4 linked regions of the Homo sapiens genome follow. The protein of the gene in region 2 purifies or fractionates together with the protein of the main gene of each other region. This does not show direct contact. Each region holds a gene or a part of one and is shown on either strand. Other genes may lie near its edges.

Region 1 (2,782 bases), on a different chromosome or scaffold from region 2:
CTTCCCTAAAGGCAGGCACAGCCGACTGATGACAGATCAGAATCACAAACCCCTCTGGCCCAGGCCAAGAATCTACTCAGCTTGGGAAATAAACAATCTGACCCAACACGTCTACATGGACCCACCCAGCTGCTCCCCTAGCCTCTGGACCCAGGAGCCTCACCCGGTACAGCTGGTCCACCTGTGCCTGGCACTGCATGTAGGCTTCATAGTCTGCAAACACCTTGAACCTGGAATGGGAGAAAGGAGGCTGGGCCAGGGCAGCAGGGAGCCCTGCCCACACTGTCCCGAGGGGAGAGTCCCAGGGCAGGAGGCCAGGCACCATCCACCTGGTCCTGTCTGGAGCGAAGGGGCCCACCCACGCAGCTGGTCAGAGCCAGGCTGCACCAGGCCCATTTGGCCACAGGGCTTCTCTGTGAGCAACACTTATGTCCTGGGACAATATTTTAGAAAAACCTTATTTCAACCCAACACTCCTTTAAATAAACTGGCATTTAAAACGTGTCTTCCACACGCAGGGCAGTTAGAGCTGCACATGGGAGAGGCCTCCTGGGCAGACAGTGGAGAGCCCATGGCGCCGCCTCAGGGCAGGGGGCACTTGCTGGGGAACGGCATCTCCATTTGCCGTCTTAAGTCTAACTGGGATTTGCCTACACAGGAAATACTGACTTGCAGTTCCTGATGTGCTGAACAAAAATGCCAGATTTATGAATCTACAAATGCATTTCTGTTCACTATCGAGTCAGAAGCACACTTCACGAAATGCAGAGTTCACAATTTTAAAAGCACTTCCTTTATCACAGACCTCAGCAGGGCCCAGGTTCCAGCCCAGATCCCAGCATGTGGTCAGAGCTGGTGTGACTGAAGCCAACAGGTGACACGGTCATCGAAGAGCAGCAGACAAAACTAAAACTAACCCAAAGGCAGCTGAAAGTGGAGGGCAGGTGAATTCCCAGCCCTCGCCGGATTCAACTTTTGCCAACGGTGAAGAACTGCCCTGAGCTGCAAACCTTACAAAGTCTGTAACTCTAGATAAACCATACCATGTGCTAACTGCACTGAAATAAAACACTAACTACATTATAATGTCACATCGTTGCAAGTGAAATCCATTTTCACCACTGCCTGTCACTGGCACTGACGCCTGCCGCGGTTCCGCAGCCCTTGTGCGCCCCCTACCCCACCCCAGGGAGTTTTGGGCCCATGCTCCCTCTACTGGCCTGCTGGGACACGGCTGCCCCTGGGACCTCCAACCAGCAGAGGACACCCCCTCCTGCTCAGCACATTGGTCCACAAGGCCTGGGGGCTGGACTGTGCTGCTGTGTCTCGCTGCCCAGGGCCCCCTGGCATTGCCAGAGGCCATCGCAAACTCCCAGCTGGGGTCTAAGGCTCTGCCCAGTAAGGTCTCATGGGCACAGTGGAGAAGACGTCCTGAAAGCACGGGTTTTGCTCTCCAAACAAGGTGGAATATCCAACCCACGAAGAGGACCCCTCCCTCCCTCCCTCCCTCCCAGCCACCCAACCAGGGAAGTCGGTCCCACCTGTCATGGTGCATCAGCATGTTCACGATGTCCTTGAAGCAGTCTGGCTCCTTGGGAGAAAAAAAGCCACTGCTGATCTGGTCCACGGCCTGCTTCAGCTCGGGCAGGTGGTCGTAGTACTCCCTGGCATTGTACCTGTGAGGCGATGGGCCAGGAGTCAGCAGCCAGCGCCCCAGGTGGGCCACCTTGGAGAACAAGCCATGTTGGTGCCTGGCACAGCCCCTGCCCCAGGATGGCCCTGGGAGCTCAAGGCCTGCACGGTCCAGGGCAGCAGCCAGTGGCCATGGGTGGTTACGAGGCCCTTGAGCAGGGACCTGCTCGAGCAGAGATGTGAAGTCAGTCTAAAGCCAATCCCACCTGCTCCTTTGACTGTTAAAGAAATGTCATCACTAGCAGATCTGCTAGGACATAGTGGCTGATGCCACATTCCTAGTGGAGAGGGCCACTCAGAACTTGGCTCACTGTGAAATCCTGGGCAGAGCTTTTGAAAAACAGACGGCCGGAGGGGCAGGAAGTGAAATGGAGCACCTTGGCTGGGACCTCGAAGATGGAAAAGGAAAAACGCAAGCAAGACCAGACAGGACAAGGCAGAGCTAAGTGGGAGAGGGACGGACGGGCAGACATGGGCATCCCAGGACGGGGCCCGGGCAGAAGAAGCTGTGTGAGGGCGCAGAAAGGGAGCACAGGCCTCTGTGCTCGGGCCAGCAAGGCACAGCTCTGACTTCAGATGGCATGTGTGGTTTCACCTGACCCTACTTAAGGCCTCACAGGCTCCCCAGTGCTTCAAGGCAATCAGGCAACACTGCCTTTTCTTTGTAATTATCGCTTGGAATCAGGCCCGTGCTGGATTCCTCATGACGTCCAGATCATGAAGAACAAGGAAAAACTGAGAAGCTGTCACAGACCAAATGACACTGGGGAGACCTGACGGCCACACACAGTGGAGTGCCCTGATGGGATCCTGGGATGGGAAAGACAGTAACAGAACCCCGGTGGAGTTGGAATGGAGTGTGGGCTGCAGGAGGGCCAGTGCTCTGAGCTCAGTGCAGCCAACGGAGGGGCGCGGGGATAAGGTGGATGAAGCTCTGGGTGCTGTCTTCAGGATTCCCTCCTCCCCTCTGCCACCCCCCAACCCCCCCATCCCCCCCACTCCCCCACCCCCCCCGACCCTGGCCTACACATTTAAAATGTTTCCAAAATACTATTTTTAAACAATTTTAACAGTTACAACTTAGACCAGG
Region 2 (3,568 bases):
GCAATCTTGGCTCACTGCAACCTCCGCCTCCCAGGCTCAAGCAGTACCCCGCAATATCAGCCTCCCAAGTAGCTGTGACTAAAGGCATACATCACCACACCCAGCCAATTTTTATATTTTTTGTAGAGATGGAGTTTCACCATGTCGTCCAGGCTGGTCTCAAACTCCTGGGCTTAAGGGATCCAACCACCTTGGCCTCCCCAAGTGCTGTGATTATAGGCATGAGCCACAGTGCCTGGCCTTGTATCAGTTTCTAATAGTCCAGCGGGCCCAGTGACTTTGTTAGCAACTTCTTTAAAAGTGATTATTATTAGGCTGGGTGCAGTGGCTCATGCCTGTCCTAGCACTTTAGGAGGCCAAGGCAGGAGGATTACTTGAACTCAGGAGTTTGAGACCAGCCTGGGCAACATTGAGACCTCATCTCTTAAAAAAAAAAGTGATCATTATTAGTGTTTGTCTAGGGCTAGATGGGTTGGGGGGAAATTGGGAGTGACTACCACTGGGTACTGGGTTTCTTAATGTAAATGAATAAAGTTGGTTGCTATAAAGGGACTAGGAGCAGGCAGGACCATGGGGTGTATTAGAAGAGTATATGCCCTTCTAAAGGGGACAGCCACTACTCTGTTTTGGTCTACTACTTCCTTATCTAATTGCAGGCCCGATATAACTACATCTTTTAATTTTCAGGAAAAGCAGGAACTGGGTATTTTTAATTGCTCCTAATTTTTTAAACAGTACAACAAATTAAAAAAAAATTTAAACACTTTGCAAGCCAGACTGCAAAATATGAAGATAATCCTTCATGGACCAAATATTATAGGCTAGATCAGCTACAGATTAGATTATCTCTGTTGACCTGGCTAGCTGTAGGACTCCTTTTAAAAAAATCTTACAAAAATATAATGTAGGACAGGCACAGTGGCTCATGCCTGTAATCCCAACACTTTGGGGGCTGAGGCAAGAGGATCGCTTGAGCCCAGGAGTTCCAGACCAGCCTGGGCAACATAGGGAGACCTCATCTCTACAAAAAATAAAAAAATTAGTCAGGTTTGGTGGCATGCACCTGTAGTCCCAGCTACTTGGGAGACTGAAGCAGGAGGATTGGTTGAGCCCAGGAGTTTGTGACTACAGTGAGCCGTGATTGCACCACTGTACTCCAGCCTGGGCGACAGAGTGAGACGCTTTCTCTAAAAAAAAAAAAAAAAAAAAGAAGAAGTATGTATGTATGTATAGCTTTTTTTTTTTTTTTAATGCTATCGGTAGATCACTGTGCCTGTTTTGTTCCAGACACTTAGTGGGTGCGTTACAGAACCTGTCTCCTGCAAATGCGTAATCAGTACACTTGTAGAGAGTACTTTAACATATCTAATTTTACTGTCAATGCCTGTATACATTATTTCAATTTTAAACTTGAAGAAGCAGAGACTCATAGATGTTAAATAATTTGACCATGTATCACACCTGGTTCTTAGCAGAGACTGACTGAGTCCTCGGTTTTTTTTTGCCTCCTAATCTAGTAATCTGCTATACTAGTTACTACTGCGCAAACACTTTGGTAGTCTACTGACAGATATTTGAAATAAAAATCTTATTTAACATCTTGAAATAGAAAAAATAAACCATGTAGGTATTTTGCTCCCTGTTCAATTCCATCTCCCTCCCTACAGAATAAGAATGTGTTTGGTGGCAGTGGTAGTTTAAGGGCCTATGTTTATTGGATGTCTCTGATGTGTTATACCAGTGCTTTAGTGTTAGTTACCTTCTGAATCTAGTGACATGTCAATAATTATGTTAATCTATTTCTAAGAAGGATGGAGGGAGGTCTTACAATAAAATACGTAACTACAAAGAAAACAGTGAATAAAAATAAAAGCACACATTTGAACAATGCAGATATAGCTAAGTACATGGAGAAGGGTCATTATCCTGGTAAGCCTGTCTAAAGAGATCTAGAGCAAAAATCCTGGGGTACAGGTAAAATAAAGGTCATTTCAGTAACATTTTGGCAACCTGAATTCAAACATACTTAAATTTGTGGAAAGAGAAAAATTAGTTTAGGTCCTCCCCTCTCCCCTCCTTCCCAAGGGAGATCTGTAGCTATTTGTAGGTTATAGCCTTTTTCTTTTTTTCCTTTTTTTTTTTTTTTTTTTTTTTGAGAAGGAGTTTGATTCTTGTCACCCAGGCTGAAGTGCAGTGGTGCAATCTTGGCTCACTGCAACCTCCGCCTCCTGGGTTCAAGAGATTCTCCTGCCTCGGCCTCCCGAGTAGCTGGGATTACAGGTGCCCGCCACCATGCCCAGCTAATTTTTGTATTTTTAGTAGAGATGGGGTTTCGCCATGTTGGCCAGGCTGGTCTCGAACCCCTGATCTCAGGTGATCCGCTTGCCTCTGCTTCCCAAAGTGCTGGGATTACAGGCACGAGCCACCCTGCCTGGCTGGTTATAGCCTATTTCTTTTCTTTTTCTTTTTTTTTTTTTTTTGTTGGAACATTTTATTGAAAAGAAAAACTGTATAAATAAGTTCTTGGTTTGATAGTAACAAAGGCTTATGTTCCCCCTTCCCTCCCCATCTTTGAAGAACTAAAAAAGAAACAAAAAGTTCATCCCCATGACGCCATTCTTGACCAGAGTCTGCCCAGAAGCCTGTCCTGTGAGCTCTTTCTCGATCTGCCTCAATGGGGCCAGGTCATTCTGGGGATGCCTGGTCCCAGGGGCTGCAGCACCTAGTTTTGTAGTTGGGAGAGACTGGGATAGAGCTGGGGAGGTGGCTGAGGTGGTTTAGTGTCAGGAGAAGAGGGCTGGCTGACCCCCCTAGCTCCATTTGGTCTCACAGGTGAGAAGGTACTTGGCTATAAATATGAACACTGATTGAGGCAGGCTTGATCTGGGACTTTGAGGGCAGGCAGGATGATTATGGCCCAGGTACCACAGGATGTGGAGTTTCTGGGCTCAGCATCATGGTATCTGGGGCCCACGTCCAAGTGGAGTAAATTCTAGCTGGGAAGGGCCGTTCAAGCACACGGGAACCCTGGTTTGTTTGTCCACCCCCACCCATGGAGTATCCAAGCTGGTACCTCACCTCCCCCGAATCCCAGTAGCACCCATGTGTCTCAGAAGCCTTTGGCTGCCTCCTGCCATCCTGTGTGCACCCTGAGGCCCTAAAACTCGTCTTGCATCTTGTCAACCTTAGGCCGGACCAGGTGCCCAGTGAACAGCAGGGAGCCGCTCTGGGTGTCCCACACCAGGAAGATGAAGGGGTGGTCGGAGTAGAACAGCTTGGGGCTGCGCAGCTCCTTGCTCCCATAGATGTCCTGGTCAAAGGAGTTGCCGTCTGTGTCCAACTCAAAGGCGGTGGCGTGGAACACGCTGGTCAGGTACAGGTCCTTCTTGTGTGGCATGCGTGACAAGTTTGCCTTGTTCTTGTCAATGGCCTCAGTCAGGCCAAGCCTAGCCAGGAGTTTCTGCAGGTCATGGGAACTTCCACCACCCGCTTGGGCAAGGAGATGGCGACAGGCTTCTGCTTCTTCCCCATCCAGATCTTCAGCTGCTCTTTGGTTACCAGCTTTTTA
Region 3 (3,568 bases), on a different chromosome or scaffold from region 2:
GGGTGTGGTGGTGGGCGCCTGTAATCCCAGCTACTCGGGAGGCCAAGGCAGGAGAATCACTAGAGCCCAGGAGGCAGAGATTGCAATGAGCCAAGATTGCGCCACTGCACTCCAGCCTGGGCGACAGAGTAAGACTCCGTCTCAAAAAAAAAAAAAAAATTTAAAAATTGTATTCATATGAGAAATGCATGTATTAACATACAAGTAATGCATGAATATATATTGGTTGTTAACTCTTCAGATAAACTGCAAAGAGTAAAAAATAAAAAAGTCTCCTTCAACCCTTTTCTTCTCCTAGATCCCTGCCCTCCATCCCAATCCCATGCCTTTCTTCAGAGATAATCACACTGAACAGTTTGGCATGCAACATTCCAGACCTTGTGTGTGTGGGGTTTTTTTTTTTTTTTTTTTCTGAGACAGGGTCTTACTCTTTTGCCCAGGCTGGAGTGCAGTAGTGCAATGTTGGCTCACTGCAGCCTCAACCACCCAGACTCAAACAATTCTCCCACCTCAGCCTCCTGAGTAGCTGGGACCTCAGGCCTGCACCACCACGCCTGGCTAATTGTTTTTTTTTTTTGGAGAGACAGGGTTTCGCCATGTTGCCTTGAACTCCTGAGCTCAAGCTATCCTCCGATCTCAGCCTCCCAAGTGCTGGGGTTATAGGCATGAGCCACTGTGCCCGGTCTCAGACCTTTGTATATTTATTTAGACACAGAGATATTATGCCTCTCTCCTTTTAAATAAATGGGCCTGTTTATATTCATTCATTCAACAAATATTTATTGATAGCTGTACTATTCTGTGATGCACTTTTCCTTTTTAGGATATATAGATATACGTCACTGTGTTAGTATTCTATAGCAACAGTCCTCAGCCCTTTTGGCACCAGGTACTGGTTGGTTTACTGTCTTCCTAGAAGAAAATTTTTCCACAGACCAGGGGTGAGGTGGAAACCATTCTACCTCAGATCAACAGGCATTAGATTCACATAAGGAGACTGCAGTTTAGATCCCTCATATGTAGGGTCCGTGCTCCTATGAGAATCTAATGCCACTGCTGATCTAACAGGAGCGGGACTCAGACAGTAATGCTCCCTTGTCTGCAGCTCACCTCCTGCTGTGCAGCTCAGTTCCTAACAGGCTGTGGATCAGTATTGGTCTGTGTCCTGGGGGTTGGGGACCCCTGTTTTATAGTATGAATTTACCATAATTTATTTACCAATTCTGCTATTAAGGACAGTTCAGTTTATTTCTAATTTTTCTCTATTACAAATAAATTTTCAGGGAACATTTTTTATTTGCAAGTATTTTTGCAGGCTAGGTTTCTATAAGAATTGGAATTGGGTAGTCTACATTTAAGTTTATTTATTTGAGATGGAGTTTCACTTTTGTTGCCTAGGCCAGAGGGCAATGGCGTGATCCCAGCTCACTGCAACCTCCGCCTCCTGGGTTCAGGTGATTCTACTGCCTCAGCCTCCCAAGTAGCTGGGATTCCAGGCATGTGCCACGACGCCTGGCTAATTTTGTATTTTTAGTAGAGATGGGGTTTCACCATGTTGGTCAGGCTGATCTCAAACTCCTGACCTCAGGTGATCCACCCACTTCGGCCTCCCAAAATACTGGGATTACTGGCATGAGCCATCATGCTTCACCAACATTTTTGTAGGTAAAAATTTCATGCTGTCAAATTCTCTCAAAAAGTCAGTCCCAGTTTACATTCTTCTTTTACTTTTATTTTTTTGACACAGAGTCTCACTCTGTTGCCAGGCTGGAGTGCAGTGGCACGGATCTCGGCTCACTGCAACCTCCGACTCCCTGGTTCAAGCAATTCTCCTGCCTCAGCCTCCTGAGTAGCTGGGATTACAGGCATGTGCCATCACGTCCAGCTAATTTTTGTGTTTTTAGTAGAGACAGGGTTTTACCATGTTGGCCAGAATGGTCTCCATCTCCTGACCTTGTGATCTGCCCGCCTTGGCCTCCCAGAGTGCTGGGATTACAGGCATGAGCCACCACATCTGGTCCCCAGTTTACATTCTTAACAACAGTATATGAAGGCATTTGCCCACACTCTTGCCAAAACTAGATATTATCGGGTCTTCTTTTTTCTTTTTCAAAACTGGTAGGCCGTAAATGGGTAACTCATTTTACTGTGTGTGGAAGTGAGCATGTTGGTACCTTGTTATAAAACTATTATTGAGGTTGAGCATCTTTTCACAAATATATTGGTATTCATAGTTCTTTTGTGAATTGTCTATATTTTTTGCTCATTTTTCGTCTGGAATTTTGAGGGTATTGATTTGAAGATGCTATTTATATGCTCCAGATAATAACCATTTAGCTTTTTTTTGTTTTTGTTTTTCCTTTTGAGGCAGAGTCTCATTCTGTCGCCCAAGCTGGAGTGTAGTGGCGTGATCTCGACTCACTGCCACCTCTGCCCCCCTGGGTTCAAGTGATTCTCCTGCCTCAGCCTCCCGAGTACCTGGGATTACAGGTGCCTGCCACTGTGCCCAGCTAATTTTTGTATTTTTAGTAGAGACGGGGTTTCACCATCTTGGCCAGGCTGGTCTTGAACTCCTGACCTCATGATCCACCTGCCTTGGCCTCCCAATGTGCTGGGATTACAGGTGTGAGCCACTGCGCCCAGCCCCATTTAACTCTTTATGTGTGTTTTACTTAGTCCTACTTTGTGCCTTGTCTTTTAACATAATTGTTTGTGGCAAGTTTCTGTTGAATGGAAGATTTACGTTTTGTAATTTTTTTTTTTGGACAGAGTGTCACTCTGTCACCCAGGCTGGAGTGCAGTGGTGCAATCTCAGCTCACTGCAACCTCCACCTCCCGGGTTCAAGCAATATTCCTGCCTCAGCCTCCTGAATAGCTGGGATTATAGGCACATGCCACCATGCCTGGTTAATTTATGTATTTTTAGTAGAGACAGGGTTTTGCCACGTTGGCCAGGCTGGTCTTGAACTCCTGACCTCAAGTGATCCGCCCACCTGGCCTCCCAAAGTGCTGGGATTACAGGTGTGAGCCACCATGCCTGGTCTACATTTTACATTTTTAGTGTCAAAGTTGACAATTTTTTTTCTTTACCTTTTCTGCATTACATGACTTAATTGAGCAGCTTGAGTAAGAAAATCTTTTTTTTTTTTTTTTGAGACAGTCTCGCTCTGTCGCCCAAGCTGGAGTGCAGTGCTGCGATCTCAGCTCACTGCAAGCTCCACCTCCCGGGTTCATGCCATTCTCCTGCCTCAGCCTCCCGAGTAGCTGGGACTACAGGCGCCCGTCACCACGCCTGGCTAATCTTCTGTATTTTTAGTAGAGACGGGGTTTCACCGTGTTAGCCAGGATGGTCTCGATCTGACCTCGAGATCCACCCGCCTCCGCCTCCCAAAGTGCTGGGATTACAGGCATGAGCCACTGCGCCTGGCCAGAAAATCGTTTTTATCATGTGAATTGTTAGTACTTCAGTAATTTTAAACATACTTGTTTAAAAATTTCTGGGTTTGAATATGGAAAGAACACACATACCTTAGTCCTTAGTCTCATAAAGAAAGATTGAGGCCAGGTG
Region 4 (3,568 bases), on a different chromosome or scaffold from region 2:
TCCCGGCTCCCTGTCGGGGGCTGACGGACTCAGCCCGGGCACCAACCCTGCCAACGGCTGCACCTTCGGCGGGGGCCTGGCCGCGGACCTGAGTTTACACAGCTTCAGTGATGGTGCTTCTCTTCCCCACAAGGGCCCCGAGGCGGCCGGCCTGAGCTCCCCGCTGAGCTTCCCCTCGCAGCGCGGCAAGGAGGGCTCGGACGCCAACCCTTTCCTGAGCAAGAGGCAGCTGGACGGCCTGGCTGGGCTGAAGGGCGAGGGCAGCCGCGGCAAGGAGGCAGGGGAGGGCGGCCTACCGCTGTGCGGGCCCACGGACAAGACCCCACTGCTGAGCGGCAAGGCCGCCAAGGCCCGGGACCGCGAGGTCGACCTCAAGAATGGCCACAACCTCTTCATCTCTGCGGCGGCCGTGCCTCCCGGAAGCCTCCTCAGCGGCCCCGGCCTGGCCCCGGCGGCGTCCTCCGCAGGCGGCGCGGCGTCCTCCGCCCAGACGCACCGGTCCTTCCTGGGCCCCTTCCCGCCGGGACCGCAGTTCGCGCTCGGCCCCATGTCCCTGCAGGCCAACCTCGGCTCCGTGGCCGGCTCCTCCGTGCTGCAGTCGCTGTTCAGCTCTGTGCCGGCCGCCGCAGGCCTGGTGCACGTGTCGTCCGCTGCCACCAGACTGACCAACTCGCACGCCATGGGCAGCTTTTCCGGGGTGGCAGGCGGCACAGTTGGAGGTAGGCAGGGCGGCCGTCCGTCCGCCCCCCGCCCCGGCCCCCGCCGGAGGCCCCTTCCTTTGCAGGTTCCCTTCCGCACTCTCTTGCAGCAGGAGCTGAGCTGCAGGTCCCCTGGTGCCGGCCGGCCCCCGCCATCCGTGCACGGTGGCGAACTCCAGTCCTGTGGGGAGAGGGCTCACGCTGAGTCCGTGTGTCTTGGGTTCTCTGGTTGTAACCGCGTCCCTCTTGTTTTCAGAAGGCCACCGTGCGCAGGGCCACCAGAGCATTACTTTCTCCCGTGGAGGTCACCTGCTAGGTGTGGCCGCCCGGGCTCTGGCAAGGCTCTGGGAGCTGGTGTTGGGTAAGAGCGAGTCCCCGCAGTGCCTGCCCAGACAGGGCGGAGAGGAGCCGCCGGGGGGAGCGGCCTGGCCCTGGGGCTGCTGCGGGGCGGGGGGCCGGAGGGCGGAGGGCGGGCCACCACGAGCCTGGCCGAGCCGCTGCTTGTGCTTGGTGCCCGCACACGCCTGGCGGCGCCGTTTCGCTTCCCTTTTTGTGAGCCTGCGGCTGCTGCTCTGCGCTTGCCTGGATGCTGCCGCTTGTTGAAGCTGCGTTTTTCTCTCCTATTTGCAGGTGTCTTTAACCACGCGGTGCCCTCCGCCTCTGCTCATCCGTTTGGAGCCCGTGTCGGCCGCGGGGCTGCATGTGGCAGCGCCACACTGGGCCCGAGCCCGCTGCAGGCGGCGGCCAGCGCCTCGGCCTCTTCCTTTCAGGCCCCGGCCTCGGTTGAGACCCGGCCGCCCCCTCCGCCTCCGCCTCCGCCTCCCCCGCTGCCCCCGCCTGCGCACCTGGGCCGGTCCCCCGCGGGGCCGCCCGTCCTCCACGCCCCCCCTCCACCTAACGCCGCCTTGCCTCCTCCCCCAACGCTGCTGGCCTCTAACCCTGAGCCCGCGCTTCTGCAGAGCCTCGCGTCCCTCCCGCCTAACCAAGCTTTCTTGCCCCCCACCTCTGCTGCCTCTCTGCCGCCTGCTAACGCCTCTTTGTCTATCAAGCTCACCTCCCTCCCGCACAAGGGCGCCCGCCCCTCCTTCACGGTGCACCACCAGCCCCTGCCCCGGCTGGCCCTGGCCCAGGCCGCGCCCGGGATCCCACAGGCCAGCGCCACGGGGCCGTCCGCGGTGTGGGTGTCCCTCGGCATGCCGCCTCCCTATGCCGCGCACCTTTCGGGGGTTAAGCCGCGATAAAGACCTTGCTTAGCTAGCAGTGCGTATTGTGTAAGGTAAGGCCAGAGCCCTGCGCGGTGGCTCACTCCAGACACTGAACTGTCCTTCCTTTGGCAGAGAAGACGGCCACAGGGCTCGGCAGAAGTTCCGGGGGTCCTGAGGAGGGAAGAGGGAGAGAGCCAGGGAGACCAGGGAGATGGTCGCGAGAGGAGGGACTACAGGACGGGCACCAGCCATGGAGTGGCCTGAGTGTGTTGGGTTCCAGCTGCCCGCAGCTGGGTTCCTGCGGTGACGCCGCAGGACTGAGGCCAGCCCTGGGGGCAGCTGTGCCAGCCCCTGTGGGCGAGGCTCACGGGGTGCCAGGCCAGGGGGCTGGGAGCTCTAGCTCCTAGAGCAGTCTCCAGGGCTCCATCCGCACCAGGCCCAGGTCACTCATGACGGGTGGCGTGGCTTGGTGCTGTTCCCCAGGCGCCCAGCATGTAGCAGGCACGGTGCCGGCTGCAGAGGTCCTGGAGAGCCAGGGTGGCTGGCTGGATGCCTCTGGTCGGGGCTGTCTGGCCAGTAGCCTCGGATGCCCTCATAGGGAGCCAGTGAAGCCCCAAGTGCCCTGCCTGCCTGGGGGCTGATGGGTTCCCGGCGGGGTCGAGAGGCAAGCTCTGTGCCCTGCGTGTTGAGGCCCCCTTGCTGGACACGGCTGATGGCCACACTGCCCTGTGGTCATGGCCCACAGCCGAGGGGCTTTCAGCTGCTCAGATGTCAGCACCAAGCTGGGCAGGTTAGTGTAGACGGTGCCCACCTTTGAGACCAGAAGGAAGTTGGAAGCAGGAGTGATTTTGATGATGTGAGGCCTTCAGGGAATGTCCTGTTCACTCCTCCCCCAAGAGGCTGTGGAGACTGTGGCCGCTGACCCCTGAGGGCAGTTGGCCACCCGTGCCCTCCAGGGACATGGCGTGCCTGGCGGCGTAGTGCAAAGGTGCCCTCTGCTTGCCCCTGGCCTTCTGCCTCAGGGGCCCCTGGGACACAGGCCTTCCTGGGCGAGTCCAAAGCCCACCGGGCAAGGAGAGGAGGACTGGGAGCCAGGAGCCAAGGCGGAGGCTGTGGCCAGGGCTGGTCAGCCTGGCGGGTCAATGCGGGCACCTGCGGGCTGGACAAGCTATGCTGGGTCTCTTAGGAGATGAGCTGCAGGTAGGGTGGCTTTAGCTGGACTCGGCTGTGTGTCTCCTTTGGAGGAAGGCTGGAGCTTGGCCGGCGTGTCCAGGTGTCAGGCTCCCTGGTCTGTCACGGGGCACGCCCGTCGTCTGTTGTGGTTAGAGGAGCTGGCACTATGCCTGTCATGGTGCTGGCCCCAGGTGGCGTGTGTGCTCGTGGGAGGCCTCGGTCCCCAGCCTGGGTGAGTGTTGGGCTCCCCCAGGCGCGATGGTAACCTCAGGCCGCTCTTCCCGCTGTGCCCTTCTGCAGGTAACTAGGATTTCTACCTCAACCGCGAGACCTATGCAAGGACGGTGTGGACCAACTCGCGCCCGCGGCATGGTGCCCGCCGGCCTGCCGGGCTCCCACCCCTGGACGGCAGAGGCAAGGACGGACGGGAGCTCCACTGTGAATCGGCGGCACGCGCCGCAGGAGGCTGGGACTGGTCCAGTTTGTACTGTC

What was found.
Region 1: the proteins of KIF24 (region 2) and PYGB purify together in Homo sapiens (affinity purification with mass spectrometry; one large-scale study listed by BioGRID and IntAct). This does not show direct contact.
Region 3: the proteins of KIF24 (region 2) and WDR47 purify together in Homo sapiens (affinity purification with mass spectrometry; one large-scale study listed by BioGRID and IntAct). This does not show direct contact.
Region 4: the proteins of KIF24 (region 2) and DOT1L purify together in Homo sapiens (affinity purification with mass spectrometry; one large-scale study listed by BioGRID and IntAct). This does not show direct contact.

Annotation. Positions count from the first base shown.
Region 1 is NC_000020.11:25,293,052-25,295,833, reverse strand, and holds part of PYGB (glycogen phosphorylase, brain form), read right to left. Parts: intron 1,677-2,782; coding exon 1,542-1,676; intron 1,092-1,541; exon of another isoform or gene 862-1,091; coding exon of another isoform or gene 804-861; intron 231-803; coding exon 164-230; intron 1-163. UniProt on the Homo sapiens protein: Glycogen phosphorylase that regulates glycogen mobilization. Phosphorylase is an important allosteric enzyme in carbohydrate metabolism. Enzymes from different sources differ in their regulatory mechanisms and in their natural substrates.
Region 2 is NC_000009.12:34,319,245-34,322,812, reverse strand, and holds part of KIF24 (kinesin-like protein KIF24), read left to right. Parts: intron 1-3,189; exon of another isoform or gene 3,190-3,305; coding exon of another isoform or gene 3,306-3,373; intron 3,374-3,568. UniProt on the Homo sapiens protein: Microtubule-dependent motor protein that acts as a negative regulator of ciliogenesis by mediating recruitment of CCP110 to mother centriole in cycling cells, leading to restrict nucleation of cilia at centrioles.
Region 3 is NC_000001.11:109,032,091-109,035,658, reverse strand, and holds part of WDR47 (WD repeat-containing protein 47), read left to right. Parts: intron 1-3,568.
Region 4 is NC_000019.10:2,226,409-2,229,976, forward strand, and holds part of DOT1L (histone-lysine N-methyltransferase, H3 lysine-79 specific), read left to right. Parts: coding exon 1-719; intron 720-1,328; coding exon of another isoform or gene 1,329-1,939; exon of another isoform or gene 1,940-3,376; coding exon 3,377-3,384; 3' UTR 3,385-3,568. UniProt on the Homo sapiens protein: Histone methyltransferase. Methylates 'Lys-79' of histone H3. Nucleosomes are preferred as substrate compared to free histones. Binds to DNA.